Homo sapiens: one gene and its partners. The protein of the gene in region 4 interacts with the protein of the main gene of each other region in a pairwise test. Each region holds a gene or a part of one and is shown on either strand. Other genes may lie near its edges.

What was found.
Region 1: the proteins of ASB9 (region 4) and ICAM5 interact in binary tests that used the Homo sapiens proteins (3 or more experiments, as listed by UniProt).
Region 2: the proteins of ASB9 (region 4) and EXOSC1 interact in binary tests that used the Homo sapiens proteins (3 or more experiments, as listed by UniProt).
Region 3: the proteins of ASB9 (region 4) and NUP58 interact in binary tests that used the Homo sapiens proteins (3 or more experiments, as listed by UniProt).

What each region holds. Positions count from the first base shown.
Region 1 is NC_000019.10:10,288,763-10,292,751, reverse strand, and holds the start of ICAM5 (intercellular adhesion molecule 5 precursor), read right to left. Parts: upstream 2,801-3,989; 5' UTR 2,709-2,800; coding exon 2,627-2,708; intron 1,681-2,626; coding exon 1,411-1,680; intron 1,264-1,410; coding exon 943-1,263; intron 718-942; coding exon 430-717; intron 141-429; coding exon 1-140. UniProt on the Homo sapiens protein: ICAM proteins are ligands for the leukocyte adhesion protein LFA-1 (integrin alpha-L/beta-2).
Region 2 is NC_000010.11:97,439,507-97,443,006, reverse strand, and holds part of EXOSC1 (exosome complex component CSL4), read left to right. Parts: intron 1-1,747; coding exon 1,748-1,836; intron 1,837-3,500. UniProt on the Homo sapiens protein: Non-catalytic component of the RNA exosome complex which has 3'->5' exoribonuclease activity and participates in a multitude of cellular RNA processing and degradation events.
Region 3 is NC_000013.11:25,304,625-25,308,124, reverse strand, and holds part of NUP58 (nucleoporin p58/p45), read right to left. Parts: intron 522-3,500; exon of another isoform or gene 485-521; intron 320-484; coding exon 177-319; intron 1-176. UniProt on the Homo sapiens protein: Component of the nuclear pore complex, a complex required for the trafficking across the nuclear membrane.
Region 4 is NC_000023.11:15,263,584-15,267,083, reverse strand, and holds part of ASB9 (ankyrin repeat and SOCS box protein 9), read left to right. Parts: intron 1-3,500. UniProt on the Homo sapiens protein: Substrate-recognition component of a cullin-5-RING E3 ubiquitin-protein ligase complex (ECS complex, also named CRL5 complex), which mediates the ubiquitination and subsequent proteasomal degradation of target proteins.

The sequences.
Region 1 (3,989 bases), on a different chromosome or scaffold from region 4:
CTGGGCGGGCTGCCCCGGGACCGCGGCTGGAACTCCCTCCAGTGTGACCAGAGCTTGGGCCCCAGCTGCGCAGGTTACTGTCACCATCTGCCCCTCGGAGACGCTGGGTTCGCTCAGGGTCAGGAGTGGTGCCGGGAAGCCTGGGGGCGGAGCATTTGGTCGTAGTATACTGACCATACCCCTCCCTCCGGTCAAGGCCCGCCCCTTATCTGCCCGAATCCTCGGGGTGCTGAGAACGAACTAGGGTACGGCGCCCCGCCTCTCAGGCTGTACAGGCTCCTCCTCCCCAGCGATTACGTCTCCGCCCCCACCTGCCCCGCCCCTCGGGCCACGCCTGTTCCGGTACTGAGGTCCCGCCCACTCTTCGCCCCGCCTTCGCATTCCTCTGGTCCCACCTCGGAGCCGCGGAGACCCCGCCTCCTTCCTTACTGTAGATGGTCACGTTCTCCCGGGTCTCCCGGTTTTCGCCCCCCAGGGTGACGTTGCAGACCAGCTGCCTGGCACCCTCCTGCTCTGCGCTAGCTGTGGCTGTGGCAGTGGCCACGAATGCGTCCCCTTCGAGGGTGACATCAGGACTCAGATTCTGGTCCCCCAGTGCGAGGTAGACCCTGGCCTCTGAGGCTGGAAACAGTCCGTCCAGAGTGCAGCTCACGGGCCTTTCCGAGCCAACTTCCAAGAGCCGGGGAGCAGCGAGGCGCGGGGCATCCGGAGACAGGGCTAGGGGTCGAAGAACCAAGTTTGAACTAACTCCGAGCGCTCAATATGTCCTAAGCACTTGACATGCACTATCTTATCGTATTATCATCCTCAAGGCACGGAGGGGGAAACAGCTCAGCCGGCGAGGGTTGAAGTCGGGGTCAGCATTCAGATGTATCTACCTCTAAACCTCCTAAACACCGACCGACCCCACTGGGTCCCCATCTCCTCCCCACACCCACTCACAGAAGGTTCGGAGCTCTCTGGGGGCCGAGCTGTTTTCAAACAGTCCCAGTCCGTGCGGCCGCAGGTCCAGCTCGGCGCGACACGAGAAATTGGCTCCATGGTCCTCCCTCCGAGCCAGTACCGTGGCTGTGAGCACCGCGCCCCGCGCTCGGGGTGGTTCACCGGCGAAGCTGCGGCGGATCAGCTCCTGGGCGCCCCGCAGCAGGGTCAGCGTGAGGCTCGCACGGGGCCCGGCGCCGGGGACCCTACAGCTCAGGGTGAAGTTCTCGCCCACCGGCTGCCAGGGAGGCAGCGGCATCAGCTCTACGCGATCTGGTCGCTCTGCAAGGGGGAAGAGTCCGCAGCTCTTTGAACACCGGGACTTGGAACAGAAGGTGGGGCCTGAAGGGGAGGACCCTGGGACCCAGGGGGCGGGGCCTGGGAGGGAGGGAGAGTAGTGGAGTACGCGCGTGGCCACCCAGAACTCACGGAAAGTGCGAATGAGCCCACGCGCCTGTAGTGTGCGCCGCGCGCAGCGGAAGAAGCAGACGGGCTGAGTCTCCGGCTCGCGAATGTCCACCAGCTGCCGCGCCAACCAACGCAAACCCCTCTGGGTCCCGTTTCGGCGCAGCGAGGTCTCCAGGCCACCGCGCTCCGGCCGAGGGCAGTTGGTGCTGCAATTCAGCCACAGCGAGCCCCCGCGCTCCACGAACGCCACGCGAGGCTGCAGGTCCGCCCAGAAGGGCTCCTGCGAGACCGCTGCCCAGGGAAACGCGGGCTGAGCCTGGGGAGCCAACTCCCTGACATCTTAGCGCCCCTATGTCGAGTCAAGGGTTCTCAGAGGGCGGGGAGGAGGAGGAGAGGCTGCAGCCAGGGAAAGAACCCAGGCGTCCCGCGTCCTGCCCAGGCCTCCGGTTTAAAGGCGCACTCCCAGAGTCTAAACCTCGAGGGTGTCTCTGGGACGTGGTAGCAGAGAGCCATGGTCTCCAAAGCGCCGATGGAGCGGCGGGAAAGCATGGGGGGAGGGCGTAGAGGAGAGGAAAGGTGGGTTCTTGGATGAACACAGCAAGGCTGAGAGAAGGGGACCCGGGATGGGGGATGGGGGATGAACCAGTTCTCAGGGTCCTGGCAGAATGCCGGGATACGAGGAGAGTGCGTTTGCGGCAAGGGCAAAGGAGAGACGAGGCTGGGTCAAGGATCAGGAAGGACCCTACACCCGGTGAAGAACACGGAGCCGGGACGCAAGGCTGGGCTCATGGAAGGAACCGCGGGAACAGCTGAGGGACCCGGTTGCCAGGGCTCTGGGTGGAGCGGGAACAGCGCCTCTGAGTCAGGGTAGTTGGAGAGATGGAGTCTTCGCGGACCGCGAGTGGGGAAGATGCCAGTCCGTGGACCATGGTGCACAGCACAGCGTAAGGAGGTACCCGGGGAGCGGACAGGAGAGACACTGGGTCTCCAGGGCGAAGGGTTGGGTGCGGAAGAACACCTAGGATCTCGAAGCGGGTAGGGGCTATCGAGGAGTCAGGAAGCTGGGGCTCGGGTGTGTGTTGGGGAGGAGGGGGAAGGGGAGAAGACTCAGGCTCGAGGTGGGGGCAGAGGCGTGGGAGCGAGGCGAGGGCAGAGCTGGGAGGGACAGGAGGCCGTTTCTCAGGTCCAGGGACTCCGCCCCCGCCCTGTCCACCCCGAACCAGAGCGGGGCTCTTACCTGAGAGGCCGAAGAGCCCCAGGCCCAGAGCAGCCCAGAGGCCGAGTAGCGCCCGGCGCAGCCCTGGCGAAGGCCCTGGCATCGCCGCGGCGGGGAAAGCACAGGAGGCGAGGAGAGCGCGAGCCGAGGAGCTGGGCTAGAGGACGGCTCCGCGCGGCGCGGCGGGTGGGGTGTGGGGGAGGCAGAGTTGCGCTTGGGGATTGGTTTAACGTTGGTAACTTGGTTTCCAAGGAGGGGGCGGCGGCAGAGGCGGCGGGGGGGCGGGAGGCGAGCGTGCGCTAAGCTCCTGGCCTTGGTGAAGGCGAGCTGGCAGGAGTGAGCGACCCCTGGGGTCTACGTGGAGGCCGGCATGATGGCCCAGGGCCTTCTGGGGGCGACCACGCTCTCTCGCGTCATCCCCGGCCGCGACTCTGGGATCGGGGGATGCTGGGTTGCCCTTCCCAAACCCCTACCCCAGCCCTGGCTGAGATGCCATGATAATAAGCTGGACTCCGAGCCCCGCCCCCACATTTAGCTCCTCCCACCAGCGCCCCTTAGGGCGGGGATACATTTGGGGACTAAGAGAGATTTGGGAGGCACTGGATGGGGAAAGGACAGTTCTAGGGGAGGGTGTGGGGATGCCTCTCTCACTGATCCTTCTCCTTTTGACCCCGCGGAGCCATACCTCTAAGCACCCCTCCGGGTCAGCTCCCGCACGCGACGGAGGGGGCGGGACGAAAGTGCCAGCGAGCCGAGGACACGTGTGCGTGCGCGCAGCGTTCGCGGGCGTCTAAATTAGAATCCGCTCGGCTCCGGGTCTGTATTTACCCAGGGTGCAGCGGGCACGTGTCTACTCAGCGTGTGTGAGCTCGAGCCACCCTGGAGCGCCCCTGAGTCCGCCTTCTGCTCGGTGGGTGGGGGCCCTGACATCCACGCGAGAACAAGGGACCGAGGGTGATGCTTTTGACTCCGCTTCCGGGCCCCAAGCTTTGACACCCCCCACCCCCAACTCCATGCGCTCATCTGGCTGGGTGACTACCAGAACATCGTCAGAATTCGAGTTTGTGATATTCCCTGTGGACCATCTGATCACCCCTTCCCGGCTGCCACCACATGGATACCTCTTCTGCGTATCCACGTCCCTCAATATGTCCGTGGGACCCTCCCCTCCCCACCATTCGTGGTCTCACTCCAGCGTGGTAAGTTATTTTGGAGATGAGTTCTCGCTCCACAGTTGTTTGGCCTCCAGGAAAGCACAGGGTCTGAAGGTGGGGCTGGGATAGGAAACTTAACATCCAATCAGAGCTGCCGCGTGGTGGCGGCGGCGCCAATCAGGAAAGCCATACCATGAACCCCACCCCGCCCCTGCCCGTGGCTCTCCCCG
Region 2 (3,500 bases), on a different chromosome or scaffold from region 4:
AAAAAGAATCAAAAATTGCCGGGCATGGTGGCTCATGCTTGTAATCCCAGCACTTTGGGAGGCCGAGGTGGGCAGATCACCTGTGGTCAGGAGTTCAAGACCAGCCTGGCCAATCATGGCCAACATGGTGAAACCCTGTCTCTACCAAAAATACAAAAATTAGCTTAGCGTGGTGGTGCATGCCTGTAATCCCAGCTACTCGGGAGGCTGAGGCAGGAGAAGTGCTTGAACCCAGGAGGTGGAGGTTGCAGTGAGCCTGCGTCACAGCAGTCCAGCCTGGGCAACAGAGTGAGACTCCGTCTCAAAAAAAAAGAAGAAGAAGAATAAAAAATTAGCCAGGCATGGTAGCACATGCTTGTGGTCCCAACTACTTGGGAGGCTGAAGCAGGAAGATCGCTTGGGCCCAGGGGGTTGAGGCTGCAGTGAGCCATGATCACTCCAGCTTGGGTAACAGGGCAAGACTCTGTCTCTCAAGAAAAAAATAAAATTGATTTCCTTAGTCACATTAGCCACATTTCAAGTACTCAATAGCCACTTGTGGCTAGTGGTTGCTATACTGGTCAGCACATGACTTTTCTGTCATCACAGAAAGTTTTACTGGACTGTGCAGGCTTACAGATTTCTAGGATAATAATCAAGGCAGCCAAGTTCAGGCATGCATAGTTCCTTCACTGAGCTGATTCCCTGAATACATAGTTCTACCTGTGTCTGGGAAACAGGGATGCCAGAGGATGATTAGGAGGCCTATTTTTGAACATCTGAAGCTGAGTTCTTTTTCTGCAGAGAAGCAAAAGACTTTATTTTTTGCCATTCCTGTTTTTTTTTTTTTGAGACAGGGCCTTGCTCTGTCACCCAGGCTGGAGTGCAGTGGCACGATCTCGGCTCACTGCAGCCTCTGGCCTCTTGGGTTCAAGCAATTCTACTGCCTCTGCCTCCCGAGTAGCTGGGATTATAGGCATGTGCTGCCACGCCTGGCTAATTTTTGTATTTTTAGTACAGGTGGGGTTTTACCATGTTGGCCAGGCTGGTCCTGAACTCCTGACCTCAAGTGATGCGCCCACCTCAGCCTCCCAAAGTGCTGGGATTACAGGCATGAGCCACTGTGTCCAGCCTCTTTTTTTTTTTTTTTTTTAATTGTTAGCCATCTATACTTTAAAAAGTCTATACCTCTCTGAAGGGCAAGTTGTGAAAAGATTTAAAAAAAAAAAAAAAAACCCAGCCGGATGCAGTGGCTTACACCTGTAATCCCAGCACTTTGGGAGGCTGAAGCAGGCGAATCACCTGAGATCAGGAGTTCGAGACCAGCCTGACCAACATGGAGAAACCCTGTCTCTACTAGAAATACAAAATTAGCTGGGCATGGTGGTGCATGCCTGTAATCCCAGCTATTCAGGAGGCTAAGGCAGGAGAATTATTTGAACCCAGGAGGCGGAGGTTGCGGTGAGCCAAGATCGCGCCATTGCACTCCAGCCTGGGCAACAAGAGTGAAACTCCGTCTCAAAAAAAAAAAAAAAAAAAAACCCATACCACCTTTGTTTCCCATAGTAACTCTACCAGGTGGCCAGAGTGGCTCTTATTCCTCTTTACATGTGTCACTTACGCAGAGAGAAGTAGGAGTTAATTTGTCTTAAATTCTCTACTTAGTAGGGTTGCTTGCACTGAAGCCCTAGTAATCCCCAGTTTATTGCTGCCTCCTTGAGCTGACAACTGCTTATACTCTGATGCTGATCTTTTCTCTATTCCGCAGGTCTCTAGCATCAATTCACGCTTTGCCAAAGTACACATCCTGTATGTGGGGTCCATGCCTCTTAAGAACTCTTTTCGAGGAACTATCCGGTAAGAAGTATCCTTTTCACATATACCTTAGCAACTGGAATAAGATTAGGATAGACTAGGACACCAGAATTTTGAGCAACAGTTACAATTCCTATTTTTCTTTTGCCCGTTTTTCTTTCTTCTTTGTGCTTTGATTCTCCCCTAGTAGTATCCAAAAAATACATGGATGATCTAGGACAAAAGGAAAATATTAACGAGAGGGTTTAAAAGTAAAGCAAAGGCTGGGCGCGGTGGCTCACGCCTGTTATCCTAGCACTTTGAGAAGCTGAGGCGGGTGGATCTCTTGAGATCAGGAGTTTGAGACCAGCCTAGCCAACATGGTGAAACCCCATCTCTGTAAAAAATACAAAAATTAGCCAGGCACAGTGGCTCACACCTGTAATCCTATCACTTTGGGAGGCTGAGGTGGGTGGATCACAAAGTCAGGGGTTTGAGACCAGCCTGGCCAGTGTGGTGAAACCCTGTCTCTACTAAAAATACAAAAACTAGCCGGACATGTTGGCGTGTGCCTGTAATCCCAGCTGCTCAGGAGGCTGAAGCCAAAGAATCGCTTGAACCCAGGAGGCAGAGGTTGCAGTGAGCCAAGATTGCGCCATTGCACTCCAGCCTGGGGGACAGAGCGAGACTCTGTCTTTAAAAAAAAAAAAAAAAAAAATTAGCTGGGCATGGTGGTGCGTGCCTGTACTCCCAGCTACTTGTGGAGCTGAAGCAGGAAGATCACTTGAGCCTAGGAGGCAGAGGTTGCAGTGAGCTGAGATTGCACCACTGCACTCTAGCCTGGGCAACAGAGTGAGACCCTGTCTCAAAAAACAAATAAATAAATAAAAGGTAAAGCAAAAAGAATTGAGTGAAGCTGAAGTTTAGCAGTGTCAGGATGACTCAAACCAAAGTAGAAGGCAGGCTGGGCGTGGTGGCTCATGCCTGTAATCCCAGCACTTTGGGAGGCCGAGGCGGGCGGATCACCTGAGGTCGGGAGTTCGAGACCAGCCTGACCAACATGGAGAAACACCGTCTCTACTAAAAATACAAAATTAGCCAGGCGTGGTGGCACATGCCTATAATCCCAGCTACTAGGGAGGCTGAGGCAGGAGAATCACTTGAACCTGGGAGGCGGAGCTTGCGGTGAGCCAAGATCGTGCCATTGTACTCCAGCCTGGGCAACAAGAGTGAAACTCCGTCTCAAAAAAAAAAAAAAAAAAAGTAGAAGGCATTTTAGGAAGCACTTTAAAATTTAATATAGATTGAACTCAGAGGTTATAAAACATTGAAAAGATTTGTGGGTGAGATGGTGATTTCGTGTGGCTTCCTTGAGAAAGGACAAACATTTCTTGCCAGGCAGATAATCTAACTTTTGAGGCCCTTTCCAGCCTCAGGATTTGATGTGGTTCTGTAGTGCAGCAGTCCCCAACCTTTTTGGCACCAGGGACCAGTTTCTTGGAAGACAGTTTTTCCACAGACCATGGAGGGGGTGGTTGCAGAATGATTCAAGTGCATTACATTTATGGTGCACTTTATTTCTGTTATTATTACACTGTAATATATAATGAAATAATTATACAGCTCACCATAATATAGAATCAGCGGGAGCCCTGAGTTTGTTTCCCTGCAATTCGATGGTCCCATCTGGGGGTGATGGGAGACAGTGACAGATCATCAGGCATTAG
Region 3 (3,500 bases), on a different chromosome or scaffold from region 4:
GATTGGGCCTATCACTAGCCCTTAATTCCAATTCCTTGCATTTCTTTTCATCTTAGCATTTACCATTTTTTAAGGTCTACTACCAGTGATGATCCTTGTAAAGAGAGATACAGGACACAATTTAGGAAAGAATATCCCAAGCCTACTCTCTGACAATGTGATCAGATCCTCCTCACCTGTATTTGTTCCTCCTAGAGTGAACCCAGTGGCAGGTTTAGATCCAAAGAGCCCGGTTCCAAAACCACTTGAAGGAGCAGATGTAGTTGCTGGAGTTGAAGTACTTCCAAGATTTCCAAAATTGAGCCCCACAGAAGGGTTGCTTATTTAAAGAAACAAAAACAAAACAAAAATCACATGCACAAAAGGAGGTCTACTAGAGCCAATATTTACTTAAGAAAAATAAAAATTAACTCTTCAAGATAATTTCATTCACATAACATATCTAATACATTGTCATAGGACCCAAAAAGAAAAATAAATTTACCTTTAACCCATCAAGTTCAAATATGTTTCTGTTCTTCCTTAAAAATAAATCCACATGTAAAAGTAGTCTTAAAAAAAAATAAATCCACATGTAAAAGTAGTCTTAAAAAATACAATACCAGATTTCAGGCTGGGTGTGGTGGCTCATGCCTGTAATTCCAGCACTTTGGGAGGCCGAGGCAGGTGGATCACAAGGTCAGGAGTTCGAGACCAGCCTGACCAACAGGGTGAAACCTCGTCTCTTCCAAAAATACAAAAATTAGCCAGGTGTGGTGGTGGCACACGCCTGTAATTCCAGCTACTCAGGAGGCTGAGGCAGGAGAATTGCTTGAACCCGGGAGGCAGGTCGCAGTCAGCTGAGATAGTGTCACTGCACTCCAGTTTGAGTGACAGAGCGAGACTCCCTCTCAAAAAAAAAAAAAAAAAAAAATACAATACCAGATTTCAAGAAAAGCAGTCTACAGCAATAAGGATTCCAGATCTCAAGGTAATCATAAGTAGGGATCACAATTATTCTGCTTTCACCAATGTTTGAAACCTAGCATATTTTTAAATGGTCATAGAAAAGTTATTTTAAATTATCTTCACTAGCTTTCCATTGCTACATTACCACATTCATGGGGCAATGTGGTGTTGGGGAGAGTATAGACTTAGGTATTTTACCACCAAAAAAAGCATAGAAAAACTAGTGGGGACATTTCCTGGCAAAAGTTAAACGCAAAGCAAAATCACCCTGTCTCAGGATCATGTATTCATTAACAGAAACTCTTCAGAGCACAGTGCAAAGCTTAAAAAAAGAACAGCTGATAAAAACAAGTGAAAGTGAACAAACTTCACAACTTTTCAACTACTCTTATCAAGACTCAGGGGTTCAGATTTGCTATGAAAAGGTGGGAAGACAAACTGTGAAAATAAGCAAATTTTGACAAGTTGACACTTCCAAAATTATGTAGGAGATTTAAGGGAGACTATACAGCATAATGGCAAATTCTCTTTATCCTACATATTTATCTTTATTATTTCCTTTGCTGCCCTTCCATAAAGAATAATCACCATGGGAGAACCCAATGTCATTTTTAAAGTCTCAAAAGCCCTGGCAGCAGTAGTGTGGCTGGGTTCCAGTACCAATCCCCCCATGTTCTGGTACTTGTGTGCCATTACTTAACCTTTCTGAGCCTCTATTTCCTCATCTGCAAAACAGGAATTAACAGTACCCACTTAGCAGATTTTTTTTTTTTTTTTTTTTTTGAGACGGAGTCTCACTCTGTTGCCCAGGCTGGAGTGCAGTGGCACTCCGCAAGCTCCGGCTCCCGGGTTCACCCCATTCTCCTACCTCAGCCTCCGGAGTAGCTCAGACTATAGGTGCCTGCCACCACACCCAGCTAATTTTTTGTATTTTTACTAGAGACAGGGTTTCACCATGTTAGCCAGGATGGTCTCAATCTCCTGACCTCGTGATCCACCTGCCTCGGCCTCCCAAAGTGCTGGGATTACAGGCGTGAGCCACCGCACCCGGCCAGCAGAATTTTTTTTTAAATATAAGGGTTCAGAGCACAGGATGAATTAACTTCAATAAATGTTGTTATGACTGTTATCATTAGGGATACTTATAAATTTAACTAAACATATTATGTACAAGGCGTTATGCCAGGAATAGCAAGGGAGCAGAAAGATGTCCCCTAGTCAAGGAACATGCCGTTTACCAGGGGGATAAACAACACAAATAACTGTACTCCAAGCCAGAAGAGTTCTCCAAGTTACTTGGGTCCGGGTGTCTTCAATTTCATAATCAGCTTAAGAAGCCACTCAAATTTTTGCAAACACTGGGAGACAAGGAGGAAAAGAAATACTCAAGCAGGAGATAATTCAAGCAGTAGAAATGTACACACCTTCAGTAAGTTTAGAATTACTATAAGTAAGATTATAATCAAGTACCAAACGATGGCAAAGAGATACTGCAGAAGTTTGAGGCAAAGAGCTAATCACTGTGAGGGGAATGGAGGTGGAGGAGCTTATTAAGGGTAGAACTTGAGATGTGCCATCCATACTGAGTAGGTAAAAGGAGAAGTACTGATTTTTAAAATGTGTTTGTGTGCACCTTGGGCATATGAAGGCGAGGCAGGAGACAAAGCAGGGCGGTAAGCTCTCGCTAACAATTAAAACACAGATCTTGACCAGGCCGGGTGGCTCACACCTGTAATCCCAGCACTTTGGGAGGTTGAGGTAGGCAGACTGCTTGAGCCCAGAAGCTTGAGCCCAGCCTGGGCCACATGGTGAAACTCTCTCTACCGAAAAAACAACAACAAAAAACTTCCAAAAAACAAAAATTAGCCAGGCGTGCCAATGCACACCTGAATGTAATCCCAGCTACTCAGGAAGCTGAGGTGGAAAGATCACTTTAGCCCAGGAGGTGGAGGTTGTAGCGGGCTGAGATTGCGCCACTGCATTCCAGCCTGGGAGACAGGGCAAGGCCCTGTCTCAAAAAAAAAAAAAAAAAAAAAAAAAAAAAAACCCCACAGATCTTTAAACATTTAGTCTTAATTTAAAAGGTATTTTTAACAACATATTGCTACAATCAAAACTAAGTGAGATCACACACACAGAAACCTAAGTGAGCGCTACAAGCAAAAGAATATAGTATGTAATGGCTATATCCAGACAACATAGGTAGTACAACCATAAAAGGGGCATATATGCCAAAACATTTAGCTTAGCTGGTAGTAGTCTGATCGTATTGTTATTTTGACACTGTTGTGTGTATAATGTGGAGTAGGGTAAATGAGTATTTGGGGGATACTAAAACATTACTGCCGGCTGGGTGTGGTGGCTCACGCCTGTAATCCCAGCACCTTGGGATGCCAAGGTGGATGGATCACCTGAAGTCAGGAGTTTGAGACCAGCCTGGCCAACATGGTGAAACCCCATCTCTACTAAAAATACCAAAAATAAAAATAAAAAATTTAGCCGGGTGTGGTGGCGTGCCTGTAATCCCAGCTATTTGGGAGGCTGAGGCAGGA
Region 4 (3,500 bases):
TCATTATGGGAAAGAATCGGTAATTTGGTTGACTTCTGCACGGTTATTTTATAGCTAAGTATTGTATTTATTTTTGTTTCCACATGGGAGAGAGGCACCAGCCACTTTTCACTGTTAGGGTTTCTTTTTCTTTTTTTTTTTTTTTTTTGAGATGGAGTCTCGCTCTGTCGCCCAGGCTGGAGTGCAGTGGCACAATCTTGGCTCACTGCAAGCTCCGCCTCCCGGGTTCACGCCATTCTCCTGCCTCAGCCTCCTGAGTAGCTGGGACTACAGGCGCCCGCCACCACGCCCGGCTAATTTTTTGTATTTTTAGTAGAGACGGGGTTTCACCATGTTAGCCAGGATGGTCTCAATCTCCTGACCTCGTGATCCACCCACCTTGGCCTCCCAAAGTGCTGGGATTACAGGCGTGAGCCAACTGTTCAGGATTTCTAAAGTTCCTAATACAACCCTGGTGGGGTCAGGGTGGGTGAGTGGGAGTGGGCAGGTGTTATACGCAAAGGCATGGTGCTTGTAAAGTCAACAAGTTTTTACAGCTAGAGTGCAAAATGTGAATGTCTTAGGGAGTCTAGTGAGAACAAGTTTGAAGAGATGGAGTGGCAGATAAAGCTTGAAGAGCTAAGTGGAGGAGGTCAGGCTTCATGAGGCAGGAAATTGAGAGCCATTGGTGGTTCTAGAACAGAGACCTGGTAATAAGGCTGTAGGTCAATTAACATGGTAGCCACAGCTGGGATAGATTGTGTTGGAATCGTGGGAGATGGTTGCATTCATCCAGTGGTTCTCAAATTCTCATGTGCCTCTACATCACCTGGAGAGCTTATTGAAATACAGATAATGCAGCTTCTGGCTGGGCACGGTGGCTCACGCCTGTAATCCCAGCACTTTGGGAGGCTGAGGTGGGCGGATCACTTGAGGTCAGGAGTTCCAGACCAGCCTATCCAACATGGTGAAACCCCATCTCTACTAAAAATACAAACATTTGACTGGGTGCAGTGCCTCACACCTGTAATCCCAGCACTTTGGGAGGCCGAGGCAGGCGGATCACCTGAGGTTGGGAGTTCCAGACCAGCCTGACCAACATGGAGAAACCCAGTCTTTACTAAAAATACAAAATTAGCCGGGCATGGTGGTGCATGCCTGTAATCCCAGCTACCCGGGAGGCTGAGGCAGGAAAGTCGCTTGAACCCGGGAGGCAGAGGTTGTGGTGAGCCGAGATCACACCACTGCACTCCAACCTGGGCAACAAGAGTGAAACTCTGTCTCAAAAAAAAAAAAAAAAATTAGCTGGGTGTGTTGGCACATGCCTGTAGTCCCAGCTACTTAGGAGGCCGAGGCAGGAGAATTGCTTGAACTTGGGAGGGCGGAGGTTGCAGTGAGCTGAGATCATGCCACTGTACTCCAGCCTGGGCAACAGAGCGAGACTCTGTCTCAAAAAAAAAAAATGCAGATGATGCAGCTTTTGATGAAGTCGTAGGCCTGGGGTGGGGGCCTAGGAATCTGCATTCATAACAAACTCCCAGGTGAAATGGATGGTACTGGTCAGGGACCATACTTTGAAAACTACTGCACTAATCCAACCATGAAACTTACATTTGGATCGAACTTTGGAAATGACAGAGAAAGGGCGATGATTTCAAAGGAAAGATAAATCAGCGTATGTTGCTTGATTAAATGTTGGAACTAACAGAAGGCAGGCAAAATTATAAGGTTCTCAAGCCCAAAGTAATGTCAGATAAGCTAGATAAGAGGGAAGTTGGAAAGGAAGTTGCCTTGGATGCAGGATGAGGAGGGGAGGATACAGAGTTCTGTTTTGGACATGATAGTGCTAACAATGATGCCCAGTGCACAGTATGATGACATGGGACTGAGACTTAGGAACGATCACAGGTTAGAAGCCAGATACCTCAGAATGTCCTACAGAGGGGCTGTGGTTGAAACCTAGGGAAGGGAGAAATTGTCCAATGGCTAAGAGCTGAGAGTCAACCAAGGATGGAACCCTGGGACAGGCCTCCAGTTGATGAAGTAGGACCAGTAAGTTGGACAGAGAAGCAGAAAGAGATTCTGGATGTTGTAATTACACAGGTGCTAAGGGAAGAGAAGTTTTCAAAGAAGTAGAAGTCACAAGGGTAGGTGCCTGGATACTTCTGGTTTCTTACCTCCTGTTGTGAATCTGACTGGCAAATTGCTACTCACCTTCTACACCCAGCTGAGCCATTGCCCCCATGAAGCCCTCCTAGACTTTCCACCTCTCCCTACTCAAGTGGAGTCATTCTCCGTCTGCTTTGCATCAGTCCTGCCCCTTGGGTAAAACCTCAATTGTAGTTGGTTGCTTTTGTTTATGCTTCTGAGGTCTTAACCTTGGTGAAGTGTGGAATGGGGAACACTCAGAATGCTGTTTTCAAATAGCTGTGCCAAGAAACTCAGCTCAGGTGAAGCTTGTCCCTTTGCACAAGGCCAAGTTAGAGGGGAAAATAGGGCCCAGGTGTGGATCATCTTGCTGCTCCCACCTCCACCTGCAGGCGTTTTTCTGCCCACTTCCCTGGGGGTAGGGAGGGAGGAAAGGCTATAAAAATGGGCAACCAACTCTTTATAGAGATTTGTTTCATGTTAGACTCTCCTGTCCAAGGAGCAGGGAAAGAATGTCTTAATTTTTTCCTGAAAGTAGCTTGTTACGAGTTAAATTGTGTACCCTGAAAATATATATGGTTAAGTTCTTAACCCCCGTGCCTCAGAATGTGACCTTATTAGTTAAGATTAGTTCAGGTGAGGTCGTAAGTAGGGTAGGATGGACCTTAATCCAACATGACCAGAGTCCCTATAAGAAAAGGAGAAGGAGACACATGGAGAATGCTATGTGACAACAGAGGCAGAGATAGGAGTGACACATCTAGAAACCAAGGAACACCAAGGACTGATGGCCACTGCCAGAAGCTAGAAGAGGCAAGGAAGGATTTTTCCCTAGAGCCTTTGGATAGAGTATGGCCCTGTCCACACCTTGATTTCAGACTTCTAGCCAACTGCTAGCCTCTAGGACTCGGCGACAACAAATTTCTGTTGTTTTAAGCCACCCAGTTTGTGGTGTTTCGTTATGGTATCCCTAGGAGGCTAATTTATACCTACTCATAGAAACTTAGGAAAATACATTGAAGGATAAACTAACCACCCATAATTCCACCAAGCAGGTAATCACTGTTCCCAGTGTTAGTGTCTATCTTTTGGGGTTTTGCCTGAAGACTGACAACTGTAGAGATATTTCTATCCTTGCAAAATTGAGCCCACCCTGTAGAGAGTATTCACATTTAAACAGAAGACAAGCTAGAACAGGTATTGAAAGAAAACAATTTTATTGTCTTATGGTGAATTTTTAGATATTGGGGCACCTCAGGAGGGGTGAGTTTTCTGGGGGAAAACCTGCCTGTTGAGACAGAATGGGTGATAATGTGAGGGCCCTTTGGAGAAGGCAGCTTTATATTGAGAGAGAGAGAGAGAGAGAGAAGAGA